3 separate regions of the Homo sapiens genome follow, and regions 1 and 2 are each linked to region 3. The links come from fine-mapping of genetic effects on gene expression. A gene starts in region 3. Each other region holds a variant in brackets. All regions are shown on one strand. Distances are from middle to middle.

What was found. PIP is the estimated chance that this variant, and not a neighbour inherited with it, causes the effect. A credible set is the group of variants that fine-mapping cannot tell apart.
Region 1: its variant is the best candidate, but not a certain one, in a credible set for the expression of CAPN5 in whole blood (TOPMed, PIP 0.87).
Region 2: its variant is the best candidate, but not a certain one, in a credible set for the expression of CAPN5 in cerebellum (GTEx, PIP 0.58).

The regions. Positions count from the first base shown.
Region 1 is chr11:77,108,727-77,114,577 of GRCh38, reverse strand. It overlaps CAPN5 (calpain 5), which reads right to left. Exons shown (of 13, transcript NM_004055.5): 4 at 1,781-1,989; 5 at 144-336. Among named protein-coding and RNA genes, the nearest start is that of OMP, 8.8 kb to the right of the region's middle. RefSeq lists enhancers at 1-263, 264-859, 860-1,454. The variant G/A (reference allele first, on the strand shown) is at 2,723.
Region 2 is chr11:77,088,101-77,093,951 of GRCh38, reverse strand. It overlaps CAPN5 (calpain 5), which reads right to left. Exons shown (of 13, transcript NM_004055.5): 3 at 139-270. Among named protein-coding and RNA genes, the nearest start is that of OMP, 12 kb to the left of the region's middle. The variant C/G (reference allele first, on the strand shown) is at 2,561.
Region 3 is chr11:77,063,961-77,069,811 of GRCh38, reverse strand. CAPN5 (calpain 5) reads right to left here and starts at 2,841. Exons shown (of 13, transcript NM_004055.5): 1 at 2,718-2,841. RefSeq lists a silencer at 2,636-3,325 and an enhancer at 3,182-3,682.

The DNA.
Region 1 (5,851 bases), 45 kb before region 3:
CTTCCAACTTCTCCCCTCCCCCACGAGGCTGAGGGTCTGAATACGTAGGAGCTGACCTGAGCGTGGGATGTCACAGTTGTCTCCCATCTCAGTCAGCGAGGGTGAAGGGGAGGGGTCGCCTCTGGGGACTGCCGTGTTCTCACCTTGATGGAGGCACTGATGAGGCCGCCCCGGCTGTGCACCTTTAACATGCGCTCAAAGAGCTGGTTCCTCTTAGTCTCATCGTTGGCAAAGTCACCCTCGGTCAGGTCGATGGGCTCAGAAACACCACCCGTGAAGTCCACCAGTGCGTCTGCTGTGTTGCCTCCATCCAGGGCCTGGTAACAGCCTGCCAGTCTGGGAAGCAATGTGGAAAGACTTCCCAGCTCATGCTCCCCAGCCAGGCTGCATCCTTTACCTCATAGGGGAGGTTTTTGAAACTCAGAGGGGTCAAACAACCTGTTACAGTCACGCAGCAGGCCACGGCGGAGCCAACACTGGAACCCAGTTCTTAACACTCGGGCCAACATATAAGGCTTAAATTCCCCTAAGCCTTAGTGGCTCAATCTTAAAAAATCAGCTGTCCAAAAAAAAAAAAGCAACTCTTTTCCAAAGTGCCAACAATGGTCAGGGGGAGGGGAAGGAGTTACTGTCGGATGGGTATAGACCTCCTGCTGGGAATGATGAGAAGGTTCTGGGGATAGATAGTGGTGATGGCCCATAGCACTGTGATCATAATGAATGCCACTGAATTGTATGTTTCCATATGGTTAAAATGAGAAGCATTATGTTTTGTCTATTTTACCACAATGAAACTGTGTTTTTTCAAAAAACAAAAAACAACCAAGGCCACTGGGTCGACCTGCATCCAGGTGGTGGAGACTCAGTGGCCACCAGGGGGCTGGCTTTCCTTTCTTAGGATTGAAAGTGGAACCTGCCAATGTGTTTTCTTGGGTTTTTGATGTTGGGAGTTTTTGTCTTTCCTTTTCCTCTCTCCCCCTTTCTCTTGTTTTCTATCTCTCTCTCTCCTTGCTCCTGCCCCTACACACACATTTTTTCAGCAAGATTGACAAATGGGCCTAGCAGGAGGAACCAGAGAGTGGCTCACCTAGAGCTGGCGAGGCTGGCCTCTGACCCCACTGCCCCTCCTCCCTCCTCCCTCCTGGCCTAGGCGTATCCCTGCCCTGCAACGGCCTGCGCGAGTCACTCTTCCCCAGGGTTCCCCACAGCTCAGCAAAACTTTGCTTGTGCCCATTCTATGCTGGGCTCTGTGTTGGGCACTGGGGACACAGAAGCAGAAGGCACGGAGCAGAAGGAGGGGTCAGCAAAGACAGAATGGACAGTCAGCCAGGCAGAGGCGGATGGTGGACAAGAGGGAGGCCCAGCAGGCGGGGAAGGCAGGCACGTGGCCCACCCTGCACAACCAGGCCCCAGCTCAGTTACCACTTCCCCAACCAAGGCCCCAGGCAGGGCATGGCAGCATGAACCTTCGAGAATGGTCCTAAATGTGAGTGCTGCCTCTGCCCCCAGCTACCTACAGGATGTTGCCTGGGCCTCAGTCTTCTCCCCCTAAAATGGGAGTAACCAACATTCCTCTCCTTACAGGGCCCAGGCCTCCACCCCACCCAGCACAGGCTCAGCTGACTATGCCCTCAGGCCTGGCGGTTGAGCCTGCTGCGTGCCTGCACCAGCCCCTCACTTCTCTGTGCCTAAAGCCCTGGCTAACGGAATACCACGAGGAGCCCATCCGGTGCCACCCCCGTCTGGGCCTCCCACCCACCTGCCTGCTGCTGGCACCTACTTGGCATAGGCCTTCTCCACTAGGGCGCACCAAAACTCATTGCGGGAGTTGGAGTGGCAGTAGATGAGCTGGTTGTTGACTGTGGGCAGCCGGTCATCGATGACCACGTCCACCCATTCCCCGAAGCGCCAGAAGTGGAAGTGGAAGATGCCCGCGTAGGCGTTGGGCTTTTCGGGGTCCCATTCCTGCTCCTTCCAGTCTGGGATGACCTGGGTAGGGGGAGGGGGGATAGGATGGGGGAACACAGTGAGGGGATGTCCGGCTTCCTGAGGAAATGGGGGCGTGTGCTTCCAGCGAATCGGAATGTAAAGGAATACTGGGTTCGGATTCCAACTCTGCCACAAGCCTTCGTGAGACCCGGATGAATCCTCCCCATCTCCAGGCTCAGGTTCCCATCTCCGCGAGGCTTGGAGGCTCCCTCGGCCTCCTTCCAGCTGTTGTTCTCAGAGTGTGTGAGCTTTCCTCTTTCTCATGCCTCCCTGCAACCTTCCCCGAGACTTCCGTCCACATCTACCACCAGCTCCTGCCTAGTGACCAGCGCCACCATCCACCCATCCAGCCCACCCCAAGGCTGGCAGCCCCACTGGCTGCTTTGCTTTCCCTCCCTCCATCCAGTCAGCCCAATCTGAGCGCCTCCATTCTCCTGAAATCCATCTCCTCCTCTCCATCCTACTGGCACCACCCTGGCCCAATCCCCCATCTCCTCGCCCAGGGACAACTGTAGCAGTGTCTGCAGCTACATCTACTCTCGCCCCACATAGACCAACCCAGTCCTGTCACTTCCCTAGAAAATAAGACACAAACTCTCAATGCACTCCCCCAGCCTCATTTCTCTGCCTCCCCCACAGCAGCCCCCACCCCTGCTCCCTGCTCCAGGTTCTTCCTTCTCCTCATTACTCAGTAGACTTCCATTTGTCCTTTAGTGTCCATCCTCTTTCTCCA[G/A]GAAGCCTCCCTGACTATTCAGATTAGGCCAGGACCCCTATCTCAGTCTCATGGCCCTTGGCAGCTCTCATCTGAGATACTTACCTTTACCAAGTTATAATTAAGTAACTCTGTGACTTTGAGCTCTGATGTTACACTGGGAATGTCAGTTCTCTGGGGGCAGGGCCATATAGGTCTCAGTCACTGCTATGCACCCAGCACCTAGCCCAGGGCCTGACCCAGAGAGTATGTTTAGTAAACATGCATTGACTGAATGAATGAATTCAAAGACATTGACTGGGGACACTGAGACATTGATTTTATTACTTATGACGCATCTGGGAAATGCCTGTGACTACCATGACTTATCTCCATTTAATTATCACAATAACCTCTGAGTAGATGACTATTATCCAGCCCTACTTCACAGATGACAATACTGTGGCCCAGAGAGGGCACGTAACTCGTCCAGGGTCACCCAGCTAGAAAATACACACATGCTTTGGAGGCAGACCAACCTTGGTTTGAAGCCAGGATTCAAACCCAGATCTGTCTGCCTCTGAAAAATGAGCTCCTTGGCACTGTGGACCACTCTGCAACCAGCCCCAAGCTGGACACTGACAACCAGGTGAATCACATGGTCCCTTCCCTCAAAAGGCTCCCAGTCTGGGGAGAGGAGGAGGCACCCAGGCAAAGTGCTGAGGCTACACAGGGTGCAGGCGGGGCTATACCAGAAGGGAGTGCCAGACCCTACTCAGCAGCATCCGCAGTGCTGCTACAGGCGTCCCCCAAGCAGATGAGGACAATAGCCACAATCTGGGCAGAGAAGGGAAAACCCCTCACCCTGTCAAGTCAGGGTGAATGACCCCTGGCCCTGCTGGGCACGGGACCAAGTGGAGCTGAGCCCCATCAGGACCATAAGCAGCTCTTTCTAGAAGAAAACCACTCCAGGTATGGGGGGCACCCAGGCGGAGGAACCAGAGGCACACCAGGAGGCCGGCACTCACCTGAGTGTACAGACTTCAGCCAAAAGCTGCTCCCCACTGCATGCTCATTAAGGACACTTTTGTTTGCATCAACAAACAAAACTCTTACCATCAAAAGGGATGTTGGCAAAGGGAAATGCTCCCTAATGGGACATGTGAGACCAAGAAAATGAAAATGCTAACTGCAGCGAGAGGTACTACTGCCCTAATGGAGCCCTGTTGGGTGCCAGGCACAGGGCCAGGCTGCTCACACTAGCACCCCTGAGCCTCAGGACAGGCTTTTGAGGCAATACTACCGGAAGGTGCTGGCAGAAGGCTGCCCACAGGCTCAAGCGAGGGAGGCAGGGTTCAAACCCAGGACTTCCCAACCTCACTGTCTGGAACCCAGCAAGGGCTCAACACTGGCTGTTCCTTTCCCCCACCTCCTCACCCCCACTTTTCTGTCAACTCTGTGCCCTTTCTAAGTAAAAATGCCCTGACTCCTGGCACTCTCTCCCCACTTTGCTTTCAGGACAGACAGCTGTATCAAAAACACGTCTCATGGGAGGCCAAGGCAGGTGGATCACTTGAGGCCAGTTCGATACCAGCCTGGCCAACATGGTAAAACTCTGTCTCTACTAAAAAAGAATACAAAAATTAGCTGGGCGTGGTGGTGCGTGCCTGTAATCCTAGCCATTCAGGAGGCTGACTCATGAGAATCGCTTGAACCTGGGAGGCGGAGGTTGCAGTGAGCTGGGCAACAGAGCAAGACTCTGTCTCAAAAAAAAAAAAAAGAGCGGTTCCATACAAGGTGAGGGTTACCATTCCCACTGCACAAATGGGAAGACTGAGGTCCAGAAAGAAACAAGATCTGCCCAAGCGCACAGAGTGACAGGGAGTCCTAAGCTGAGAACACAGGCCTGGCCCATCACCTTCACCCCCTCCTTCTGCTCCTGCCCTGTTCTGAATGCTCTGGACTCCATGGCTGGGAGGAAGGGCAGCCCTCACAGGCTGCTAGGACCTCGGGAGGATCATTAGTCAAACTCGAGGCTTGGCTCTGAGCCCTCTGTGGCTCAAGAAGCTGCTAATGAGGCTCCAGGGCCTGGAGACCCAGAGTCTGGGATCCCCAAGGGCCTCCATTTCCCCTCCTGCTTCACCGCCCCTGCACCTGGCACGGGGTGGGCCCCAAGCCAGCCTTCTCACCCCTCAGCTGCTCTGCTGTCAGCCAGGATGCTGAGCAGGAGGGAGACTGTCTAAATAGATGCGCTCGCACACCAAAAACCCTCCCACGCCACGCCGGAAACCAAGGAAGCCAGCACAGACTCCCGGGGCCATGTCAAAGGATTCAGGAACCAACCTGAAGAGGTTCCTGATGGCCAAAGATGGGCTAATTTGAGCATCAATAAGGGCAAAAACAGCAATGGATTAAAACACATCAAATATGTTCCAATTCATGAGATCAGAATGATACTTACAAAAACAATTAGTCACTATCGGAGGTGGGTAGGGAATCAACTCATTTTTTTTTTAAACTGGAAAATTACAGGAAATTTATCCTGTCTCTGTAGACAAACTGTACCAGATGGTAACCAAATAGTAGATGGAGGGAAGTCTTGAACTGGAAGAGACTTCCTGCTCATAAATGAGAAAGGACTGATGATATTAGACCACCAGCATTTTACAATCACTGAAGAATGAATGAATTTAGGCAGTGGTCACTGATGGTTTCTAACATCACAAAAAAGAAAGATAACTAGCCATGATGTGCCCCCGAATGAAGTACACAACATCTTCCATGATGCAGCTGTGACAAAGAAAGAAAAAAATTGTTCCTAAACCGTATGAGCTTCTGGAGCTAAGTCCCAGGTTACAGAAACGCAGGGGACAGAGAACATGTCAAACACCACCAAAAAGACACAGTCAACAAAACCCACACCATGGGAAACCCTACAGGACAAACGGCCCCATTTCTTTGATAGATAATTTACTAGGAAAAAATAAAAGATGAAAGAGCAATCAACCAATTGCAATTATGGACTTCTGTTTGGATCTCATTCAAACAAACCGTAAAACCTATGCATATTTATAGCACAAATTAGAAATTAGAACAATTACTGGATATTTGATGATATTAAGAGATTATTTTATAAGTTGGTATTATGGTTTTTTTTTTTTGAGCCCTTAT
Region 2 (5,851 bases), 24 kb before region 3:
TGGGGGCCCCCACCCCATCCCTGGCACAGGCTTTTGAAAGTCTCATCTGCCACAATCAGGTTCCGCCTGTCTGGCAGTGAGGGCCACAGGCTGCGTTCACACTCCCCAGCACCCTGCCCACTCTGCCCGAGGCCTCACCTTTTGCCACAGCGACTCCCGGGAGGCAAGTGACGAGCAGGCTGCCACAAACCAGCAGTTGCCCACCTGGCCCTGGTGCAGGTCGTGGGAGCTGATGCCATCCACAAAGAGGCGGGGGTCCTCGCAGATGCCCTGCGGAGAAGGCGAGGAGAGAGCGTGAGGGGCGGAGGAGCATGCGGATGCCCCCCATGGCAGGAGACATGACAGACACAGACGTGACAGACACAGACTTGCTGTGTGATCATCAGCATGGTGATTCACCTGCCTCCCACCACAGACTTGGGGCCCCATAGGGCCCATCTGCTCCCCGCTTGCCCCCCACCCCGCGGTCCTGCCTGGGATGCCCTCTCCCCTTCCTGGCCAGAGAGTGCTCTTCCGCTAAAGGTTTGCTGATGAAGAACCTGTGGGAAGACGTCAGAGCGCTGGACCCGGGGCACTGCCTTCCTCCTACCCGCTGCGCCCCTCCCTAACCAGCAAGAGCTCCATTCCCTTCCTTCTCTAGCACCAGCAGCCTGAGTGCCCACCCCCGCCAGCCCACAGGGGTACAGCAGGTTCAAGTGGGGTGGGGGTGCGGGCATGGGACAAACACCCATATCCCAGCTGGGGAGCACAAAGCGAGGGGCCAGTGGGGAGCGGTGGGCCAGGCCCCGCATGGCACTTGCCTCGCATAATCTCATCAGGTCTTCACGCCACCCAAGGAGCGAGGAGTTGTCATTCCATTGTATGGGCGAGGAATGGAGGTTCAGAGATGGACTGTGACTTGTCAAAGGCACACAGCAAGCAAATGCTCAAGTGGAGCAAAAACTCCTTTTTTTCCTTTTTTCTTTCTTTTTTTCTTTAGAGACAGTCTCGCTCTTTTGCCCAGGCTGGAGTGCATGGAATGCAGTAGTGCAACCTCAGCTCACTGCAACCTCCAGCTCCTGGGTTCAAGCAATTCTCCTGCCTCACCTTCCTGAGTAGCTGGGATTACAGGCACCCACCACCACGCCCAGCTAATTTTTATATTTTTAGTAGAGACAGGGTTTCTCCATGTTGGCCAGGCTGGTCTCAAACTCCTGATCTGCTGGCCTCGGCCTCCCAAAGTGCTGGAATTACAGGCATAAGCCACTGCGCCCAGCCTCCATTTTTATTTTCTACAGAGACTGGTGGGCACGGCCCAAGAGGCTGCTCCATGAGACGCAGCCAGGGAATCCGGCCAGGGCAGCCGCTGACCCGGGAATGATCCATGAGCAACTGGCTGCTCTCAGGCTCAGCCCTTCCTAATTTCTGGAAGCCCCTTGCTCTGCCTGCCAAGAGAGAGGCAGCCCAGGGGGGCTCCAGTACCAGGTGCCCTCTGCACCTGACCCTGCCCAAGGAGCTCTGGCCTGGGCTTTCCACCTCTTCTTGCTGTGGGGGTATTTTCCTTAAAAGCCCCCTGAGGCAGTGCTGTGAAAGGGAAAAGCATGGGCTTTGGCTTCAGACTGGAGACTGAATTCCAGCTCCTCAATCGGCAATCTGGCGAGCTCTCTGAGCCTCGGCTTTCTGATTTATATAATAGAAACAACAATTTCTTTATGTTGTTGGATTTTGGGGTTTTTTGTTTTTGTTTTTGTCTTTTTGAGGCATGGTCTCGTCTGTCACCCAAACTGGAGTGCAGTCACAATCACAGCTCACTGCAGCCTCAACCTCCTAGGCTCAAGCGATCCTCTGGCCTAAGCCTCACGAATAGCTGGGACCGTAGGCCCACACACCACACTCAGCTAACTCTTAAATTTTTTGTAGAGATGAGGTCTCACTATGTTGCCCAGGCTGGTCTCAAACTCCTGAGCTCAAGCAATCTTCCCGCCTCAGCCTCCCAAAGTGCTGGGATGACAGGCTTGAGCCAATGTGCATGGCCAATAATTTCTACTTTGCGAGGAGGAATCAGTGTATGTAAAGTATCAAGCCCAGGGCCTGACCCAAAGCGAATGAAAGTCTCCTTCAATTTTCAGGTGCTAGGAAGCTATGCCCAGACCTCTATGGGTGGCTCCAGCACCAAGAGATGCAACCAGGAAGGGTCAGCTCACCCTGTGTTCCCTCAGCTGTAATCATCCCTCCCCAAGGCCTGAGCTGGGGGTGGGGCCTGGCCTGATCCCTAGCCCTGGCCCAGGGAACAGAGCAGGCCCCTCTTCCTCTCCCATCGCCTCACTGAGCTGAGGAAGCCACTGCTCCCCAGTGGCTGTGGGTATGGTGGAGGGTGGGGACAGGCAAACACTGAGACATGCCTTTCATGTACCAGGCATCCTGCTGACACCACAATCCATCCTCACCAAGGCACTGAGAAGTGGGCAATATCCCCTTTTACAGATAAGGAAACTGAGGCCCAGGGAGGTGTAATACCATGTCCCCGCCACACAGCATGGGCAGATGGCAGCAGCCCTCTGCCTGCCTCCACTCCAGCAGG[C/G]GCTCCTGAGCTAGTTCCATCCCAAGAGCTTCTGCGGTCCTACCACAGGCGGCCAGCAGAGGGTGGCAGAGGCAGGAAGACCGAATTTGAATGTCTGCTCCCTGCTGTGCAACTTTGGGCCTCACCTGTGCAGAGGAGATAAATGGTCATCCCAGCAGGGCTGTGTAGGGACTCTACAGATCGTGGAGCAGAGCAGTTGCAAGGGAGAATGGGGAAGAGGGCTCCTAGTTCCCACCAAGATGGGGACCCTGCTGTCCCCTCTGCCCGGAAGAACCAGAGTTTTAGAGGGTCAGAGAAAGGGCTAGAATTCCCCCAAGGGCATGAGCAGCTCCTGAGACCTGGCCCCTCCTTCCAGTTGGCACTACAGGGTGCACCACGGCCAACCTGCACGGCGGCTTCTGCAGAGCACAGGTCTAGGAAACCCAGTGAGGCCGCCTGGTCTCATCCATCCCCAACGGCACCCCGTCAGGAAGCACAGGCAGGAAGAAGGGACTTTCCCTCTCCTCCCCGCTGCCCTCCTGTCTTCCCTCCCAGCCCTGGACCACACCCCACATCCAGCCCATCCTCTGACCCAGAGGGAGCTATGACTTAGCATCTGTTCCCTGAGGCCAGGAGGGCAGGCAAGACCGGGAAGGGAGAGGGGCTTCCATATACGGAGGACCCCAGCCACATCATGCCATGGAAAGAGAAACAGCTACCACCTGGCATCACCAGGGTTTACAGCAGGAAGTGACTCAGGTGTCCCTCCACTTCAGATCCTCCCAGCCAGTGTCCTAAGACAGACACACAACTGCCCCATCCCAGAGAGGAGGAGGCTGAGCCCAGGACAGCGCAGTGATGTCCAAGGTGACAAGGCAAGTAAGTGGACGGATCCGATGGGATGCCCTAGGTCTGCTGGGCTCCCAACCAGGGTCTCCCAACACTAAGCACCACAGCTGGGGCAGACCCGAGGTGCAGATCCAACCAGATCTGGGCCCCAGATCAGGGCTCTGGCCCCAGACACTTCTCCAGTCCTTGAGAGACAGACCGAGCTTGGGAGTCACGATTCCCAGATTCCATCACCCTGACTTGCTGTGGCAGAGCAGGAACCTGGGGGCAATCGTGCAGCCTGGGAAGGAGCAGACAGAGCGGAAGGCAGCCAGGCATGTTCCCACTGCCAGGAGAGGCTCAGGGTCACCAGCTCTAACCAACAGAAACCACCTGAGGTTGGTGGCACCTGGAGTCTGCTCTGGAATCCAGGGGCCACCTTGGGGCACCTGTAAAGGAACAATAATAGAAATATCTCACAATGACTGGGCACCTGCTATGTGGCAGGCACTGTGCAAAACAACCCTGTGAGATGGGCACTGTTGGCATCCCCTTTTTACGGATGAGGAAACCAAGGCACAGAAAGGTTAAGTCACTTGCCCAGGGCCACACAAGAAGAGGTGAAATGAGATTCAAATTCAGGCAGTCTGGCTGCAGTCTCCAGGTAGACTAGGTTTTTTGTTTGTTTGTTTGTTTTTGTTTGTTTTTTTTAGATGGGAGTCTTGCCCTGTCGCCCAGGCTGGAATGCAATGGTGCGATCTTGGCTCACTGCAACCTTCGCCTCCTGGGTTCAAACGATTCTCCTGCCTTAGCCTCTAGAGTAGCTGGGACTACAGGCACCTGCCACCAACACCCAGCTAATTTTTCTATTTTTAGTAGAGACAGGGTTTCACTATGTTGGCCAGGCTGGTCTCAGGTGGGCTAGGTTTTATGGGTGACAAAGCCATCCTTCCTTCACCTGTCTCCCTGCACCTGTCCTAACCCAGCTTAGGGGGTGTCTCACTAGATAGCAATGAGACCAAGGGTTTGGGGAAGCCCAGGCCCTCACCTCTGCCACCATGGGGCCAGGCTTCTCAAGCCTAGTGTTTGTCCTTCCACTTTTCCTGGGCCACTGGCTGGACATAGGTCATAGAGTGAGTCAGGGAAGGTCTCTGCCCACAGGCAGGGATCTTGAGAAGGAGCCAGGCCCTGACCCCCCATGTGAGCAGAGCTGTGACAGCAGGAGCCAGAGAGAAAACAGAGGAGGCTGCCTGGAGGCAGTGATGCTGGCAGAGCAGGCATGGAGAGTGCTGGTAAGCAGGGAGGTTCAGGAGGGAAATGGGGACCCGAAGTGTCCTGAGGCAGACACTGCCTCCGAAATGGTCCTCGGGTGCCAGGGGCCCTTTATCTGGTGCCAGCCACCTGTGCTCCCTTCCATCCCTGTCCACACTCTCTAGGTTTCCTTAGGGTCCCCACCACCAGCCTGTGAGCTCCTAAGCAGGGCCCAGGCCTGACTTTGCCCACTTCTAGGCTTAGCAAAGCTTGGCAGGTTCCACTGGGGCTACAGACAGGTCCCTGGGAGGGAGGGGGGACAAAGTGGTGCACAGGATTGGGCTGTACAGGGGCTACCCCTGAGGGCTGGGGGTTGACCATTTCTCCAGGCAACACAGCTCTAGGACAGCATTCTGCACCTGCAGTCACCGCTCCCCTGCTCAGCCCATCCCAGCCTGTTAGACCAACTCTACCTGACAGGCCACAGCCCAGCCCACCTCCCTTCTCCCTTCGTGGCACAACAAGAAATTCAGGTTTCTATTCCTGGTGTACAAGGCAAGGCAAGGCAGCAGACTGGATCCATGGCACCTGGGCTATATCTGCAGAGGCTCCCTCCACATCCGTCCTCCTCCCCCACTCTTTGTCCATCCAGCTTCACCCTAGTCACCACCCTCCTGGAATCTAGGATCACAGAATGAATGAACTAGACAGTGGGAAACAGGTCTGGGAAGGACACGGGACTTCCATCTGGGACTGGAAAGGGAGTTGTAGCCTACAGCCCATCCCCTCTGCAGAAGACTTGCCCTCCCCCAGCCCTACCTCCTTCTCCTCCATGGCAGTCCGCACCCTTCAAGGCCTCTGAAAGCTCTCCCTGACCCCACTGAACCCCATCTCTGAGCACATGCCCAGAAGGGGGTCATTCCTGGGCAGTTCGGCTGGGTGTGCCCCCGCTGCCAGGCCTTGCTGCAAACTGACTGTTCTGTGGCACGAAAAGGCCTTATGTTCAGGGAGCCGAGGAGTAGGGCCATCTCCAGGAAATGGCTTGATGGGCAAGAGTCCCCGGGACTGGGCTGAGGCTGGGGCCCCCGAGACTGCACTAGGGGAATTCTGCAGGTTCCAAAACCAGTGTCTGTTCATTAGTCCCCCTCCCCCACCCCACCTTGTCCCCTGTGCATTCCACCAAAGGACCTCCAGGCTCATACCCAGATGTGGGAGAGACAGCATGCTGGATGA
Region 3 (5,851 bases):
GATGGAGAGGCAGAAGAGTTCTCTGAGGGCACTTGAGAGGTGCCTGGGAGGGGCTCTGAAGGCACTCAAAACACTTGAATAGATGGGGACAGAGACAGAACGGGTGAAAAGCCCAGCTGCAGAGAGACTGCTGCCAGCTGCCCAGGAGGCTGCTGGGGAGGGGTGGGGGGTGTTGCAGACCCTGCTCTTTGCAGCTGGGGGAGCCCAGGGCCCACTGCTGGGCTTTCTGTTCAACCTTTACATGCTGTACTCTAGGGTGCTCCCGGCTGCTCAGCCCTTGCCTCTCCTCAAGGGCTAGAAGCTTTTGGGGGAAGCCAGGGGACTTGGTCAGGCAGATACAGATCACTCCCGTAAGTCCCCTTCACCCACTAAAGCCAAGAGAGGCTTCCGTTTCAATAGGAGAGGACTGTTTCCTTCCACCCTTCTTCTCCCAAAGTCAGCCCCTCATCCCCAGGGAGGGAACTAAGTGATGCTGATTGCCAGCTGCTATTAGTAACAATGGCTACCAGACACCATGTACTTAGAAAGATGCGTTCAGTGACATGATCTAAGTTCATCTTCATCATCCCCCGAGTCCCTGTGAATAGGCAGCATTTATCCCCATTCCGCACATGAGAAAACTGAGACAGAAAAGGGAAGTTCTCCGCCTCAAGGTCATAGGCAAGTAGGAAGGTACAGAGATGGTCTCAGCCAAGAGAAAGAACAGACACATGATTTAGGCCCTGCAGGTAGGAGAGGGTGCCCACTGAGGGCGCAGGAGGCCTCCTGTTTGGGGACCAGGACTCCAGGGCTGATCTGACAGCCTGCCAGGAAAGCAGGCGCAGAAGCAGACAGAGACAGTGCTGGCCTGGGAGCAGTGTCCCAGATGTCACCCACAAAAACCCACAGGCATCTCACAACCACCCTGTCCAACAGTCAACTTACTCCCAACCTGCTCCACCCCCAATGGTGGTCCCCATCTCACAGAGGCAGCCCCACCTACCTTCCCCCAGCACTGGGACCCTGTGTAGCCCCTTAGCCCCTGGGCACCTCCTGCCCCCAGCACCCCTGCTCTGGGAAACTTTATCAGGGTCCCTCCTCCCCTGCCAAGCCTAGCCCTGGGTGGGGAGCAGAGGAGAGCAGAAGGGAGGGCCCTCTCCCTGCTTTGGCCTCCTCCTTATAGCCCTCAGTGGAAGCCCACCCACTACTGCAGCCAAAGGTGGCCCTTCTTGGACACACATCTGACCTATCTAATCCGCAATCCACCCCACCAGCATTCATTTTCACACTGCCAGGCCTTTACTCATGCTGTTCCTTGGGGCTGCAATGACCTGCCTTTTCTTTTCTGCTTGGTGGATTTCAAGACCCAGCCCCAACGAATCTGCAAGTGAACTCATCCCCAGCTCCCGGGCACCCATCAGTCCCTGTCTTGTGCTCCCAGCACTGGGTACAACTCTGGACAGGGCCTTATCTGTGGACCCACTGCCTGTCTTGTCAGAAGAGAGGCTCCTCAGGGCAAAGACCCCGCCTGAGCACCTCTGTGTGCTGGCAACTAGCCTGACCTGGCCTGCAGCAGCAGCTGGGCCCACCATACCCTGCCCAGGAGGCAAAGGCAGCCACACCACCCCACCCCCAGACCCTGGGGACAGGAGCAAGGACCAGCCCGAGGACCCTGGGAGGTGTCAATCCTTGCAAAACACAGTGGTTCCCCCAGCAGGCCTCAGACTCATTGAGTTGGCTGAGCCTCACCCGTAAGCCCCTCTCTTCCAAGAAGTCTGCCCAGATCTCTCTTTCCCCTGAGTCCTGGGATAGTCGCCCTCAGTACTTTTCTCTCTAAACCACAGGTGTAGGGAGAAGATTCTGGGATGAGAGCCAGGCGGACCCGGGTTCAAATTCTGGCTCAGCAATCCTGAGAGGGCAGCTGACTTCGCTTCTCTGTGCCCCACTCTTCTGATCTGTATGGAACTTGGGGGTGAATCCCACCACATGAAATGACTGGGAGAGAGAACGTCGCACCTGTTAATGATCTTTTGTCCTATTTCGCCTCTGGTCCCCTAGGCCAGTCTTCCGAGACCCCCAACGCAAAGGAACAGAGGTGGGAACTCTGAGGTCTGAGAAACAAAGATCCATTCCCTCCCAGACCACTCCCCCACACTCCCGCAACACACACACACACACACACACACACACACACACACACGTGCGCCCGCCCTGCAGTCAAGGAGAAAAGCCCCCTTTCAACCTGGGGAGTAGTGCCAAGAAGCGGATAGGCTGGGGCAGTAGGAGCCTCGGCCCTGCCCCTTCCCCAGGCCTGGGTGGTGGAGCACCCAGAAGGGGTTGGTGGATTGCAGGGATGAAAGGGGGGTTAAGCAGGGAAGAGAAGGGGGGAACTGTAAGGAAGATGAGAGGAAGTGACAGTCTAGCCCCGGGTGTTAGGCGCTTCCAGCGCGTCCGCACTAGGAAAACGACTCGGAGACACCCAGAGGGAGGTGAAAAAAAGACTCCTCGCCGGGGGTGGGGGTGGGGACGAGCCGAGGGGGCCCAGGCGGATGCTCCAGGACCCCGCCCCCCAGCCAGCGCTCACTTCCTTTCCCCCCGGGCCCGCGGGAGGTGCAGCCCCCTCCACTGATTCGTGGTCCCGGAGCAATCACTGGCCCGCGCTGCACCCGCACACACCCCCCCGAAACACACACACACACACACACAGAAGCACACGCCTCCCTCCGCCCGCCTCCTACCGGCCGAGCCGCCGCGGGTCCAGCCGGGCTCCCGGGATGCAGGGCACGGCGCGGGCGCTGGAGCGGAGGCTGCAGCCGCCCGGCGCAGCAGCCTCGGGCTCTGGCCGGAGATCCAGCTGGGACTGGCCTGCGGCGGGGGCTGGCGCTCGCATTCCCCGGGTTCGGCCAGCTGGGCCCGGCTCCGCCCCGCCCCGCCCGCGGCCTCCGCCCATTTGCCCGTTGCGAGCCGGAGGCGTGGTCTCCCGTGGGGCGGGGTGGGCGGCCCGGTGGCCGGGTGCGCCCATGCGCACTGGTGCGGTGGGCGGCCGCTCAGAGGAGCGGTCTCATTCCAGCCCCTGTGTTGAACGCGGACTTGGGGCCCCTAGCGGCACCCACCGCCTCTACCGGCTCGGTCGGGCCCTCGTTCTCTCTCCTTCCCAGCCTATCTGTCTGCGGTTGGTGCGCATCCCCATGGGCAGCCTCCCAAGGGCTGGCTGCACCGTGAGGGATCGGGCCGGGGCTGGGGTTCAGCCCCCACAGGGCGGGCCGGGGCCGCGGCTGACTTGGGGCCGGCGTGTAGTACCGAGGACCCGCAAGGGCCAGGGTGCCTGCCAGAACCAGGACTTGGTGGGCGGCGCCCCTCCCTTTCCGGGCTCCACCTTCACATCCATCCCAAGTGTTCGGATGGAGAAGTGGGAGCCCAGGCCCCTGTGAGCAGCAGAGGGCCTCTGTCAGATGGGAAAACTGACCCCGGCCCGTGTTGAGGACTTAATCCCGTGCTGCCATGGGCTCCCGGGCTCGGGCTCATGTTTGACTCTCTGTCCGTGACTGGCTACCGGAATGCCCTGGGATGGCACGGAGCCTGCATTTCCTGATCTGTAAAACGGGGACTATAATCTCTACCCACCCCAGGCCGCTTGGGGAATCCGATAGAGAAGGTTTAGGAGTGACTAGTTCTTGCCTACAGTAGGAGCTCAGGGGTGCCACCACCCCCCGCCCTGAGGCAGCAGGACAGACGCCCATCTGATCTGATGAGCCCATCGGCCCACTCGCTGGTGGAGCGTCTCAGGCCCGTTCATTCTCCGCCTCCAATTTGTTTCGAAGTCTCAGTTAATGATTTCGTCAACCTCTTGTGTTACCGAAACAAACTTGGGTCCGCCCACCCAGTGCAGCAAAGCCAAACACTGACACCAGGATTTGCAGCGGCAGAAAGGGAGGCATTTATTGCAGGGTGCCAAGCAAGGAGAATAGGTCGGCTAATGCTTAAGACCCGTACTCCCCAATGGTTTACATGTAAGGCTTTTTAAAGGTGGGGAGACAGAGGTTATAGGCAAAGTCATAAATAAATACTCTGGAGCTATACATTGGCTTGGCCCAAAAAGGTGAGACATTTTGAGGCAGGGTCATAGGTGGATTCAGAGATTCTGTGATTTGCAATTGGCTTAGGAAGCAAGACTGTCTAAAAACCTGGGGTCCACAGATAGGAGAGTTAAGCATTGGCTTATGGGTGTGACTCTTTACAGAACCCTTGGGAAGAAATTTAAAGAACAGCCCTCAGTTTCCCCTTATCTGAGGCCTAAGTGACAGCTGTGAAAAACAATTCAGGGACATAGGTCAAGATGTTATCTTTAGTTTCTATAGGGAACCAGACATCTTGTGGCTCTAACTTATTTGGGTGGCCCTTGTTTGAAGCTTCAATTACCTTCTTGCTTGTCAAGGTGCTCATTTACTTCTCAAAGCTAGCTAGCTGCCTGAAATTCCCCCTGAAAAGACTCATGATTTTCCTTTATTTCCACTAAGAGGAGTCTCTGCCTCACCTCACTCTCAGTCACCTGGACTTCTCTAGCTTCTCCCCAACCTCCCTGCCTCTGTCCCAGGCCACCCAGATGCTTCTCCCTTAAGAGTAGCCCCAGCCCCCTCAGGAGCCTCCTATCCAACCAAAGAAGACTTTCACATATGCAGCTGAGACCCGCCACCCATAGAAGAGTGTTCTAAGACTGCACCCCATCTGACTCCCCCATCTCCCCTAACCTTATTCCATGCCCTGTACTGGGAGCAGCAGCTTCACCAGCCCTTCAAAAGTCACTTCAGGGGCTCTACTCTCCCCACCTGAAACCATGCCCGTGCTGATCTGTGGCCGTCTGAAGGACTCTTCCTTCCTCCCTGTGCTGCAGCATCCCAAAGCTCCCTTGCTCAGCATCCACCCCTCACCTATGGCCCTTCTCAGGCTGCGTCTCTCAGAGTTGCTGGTGGGGCCAAGGTTTCCCCTGCAAGGCCAAAGTTCCTGGAGGGCAGAGGCCAAGGGTCATTGTCAGGAAGACAGCAGCACTTGGTAGAGCCAAGTAGATCTGGGCTCCAGTCCTCACTCTGCCAGTTACTGGCTGTGTGATCTGGGCAGGTCCTCTATCCTTTTCCCTGTCTGTAAAATGGGCTTCTAGCTGGAGTGTGTGATGACCAGGTACAGGCAAGTCACGGGGATCGATAAAGGCCCGGTTGTGTAGGATACTGGGCAGCATTGTCTCTGGGCTGGGCAACTCCCATGTGTTCCAAGGTGGGGCTGGGGTTGTGTCTGAGAAGGCATGTTTGCCTCAGCCCACAAAACAGTGGGGTTCAGAGGATGCTCAGACCCCCTTCTGTATCTCAAAGCATTGGAGCCACAAGAGGGTATTGTGCAGTAGTTGCAAGCATGGGCTCTGCCTGGGCTCATATTAGCTGAGTGACCTCAGACAAGTGACCCAACCTCACTGTGCCAGTATCCTCTCCTATAAAGCCAGCATAGCAACAGTCGCACCATGGAGTTGTTGTGGGATTAAATGGGCCGGGACATACGGAGCCCTCATGGTTGCCCTTTGCTTGGAGTAAGAGCTCAGCATGTGCTAGCTGGTGTTATTGTCATCTGGCCCAGCCCCTCATTTTGTGAAGACATTGAGTCCCAGAAGCAGAGACATGCACTCATGGCCAGTGAGAAGCCCAGCCACCCTAGCAGGTTAGCACTGGAAGGGCCCAGTCCTTTAATCATCTCCAGCAGCTCCACCTTCTCCGACAGGTGAGGAAAGAGGCCTAGCGAGAGTGACCTGCCCAGGACACCCACCCTGGTGGCCGGGTGGAGAGAGCATTGGCCCTGCTCTTGGGGGAGAGAGAGGTCCCCAAGATAG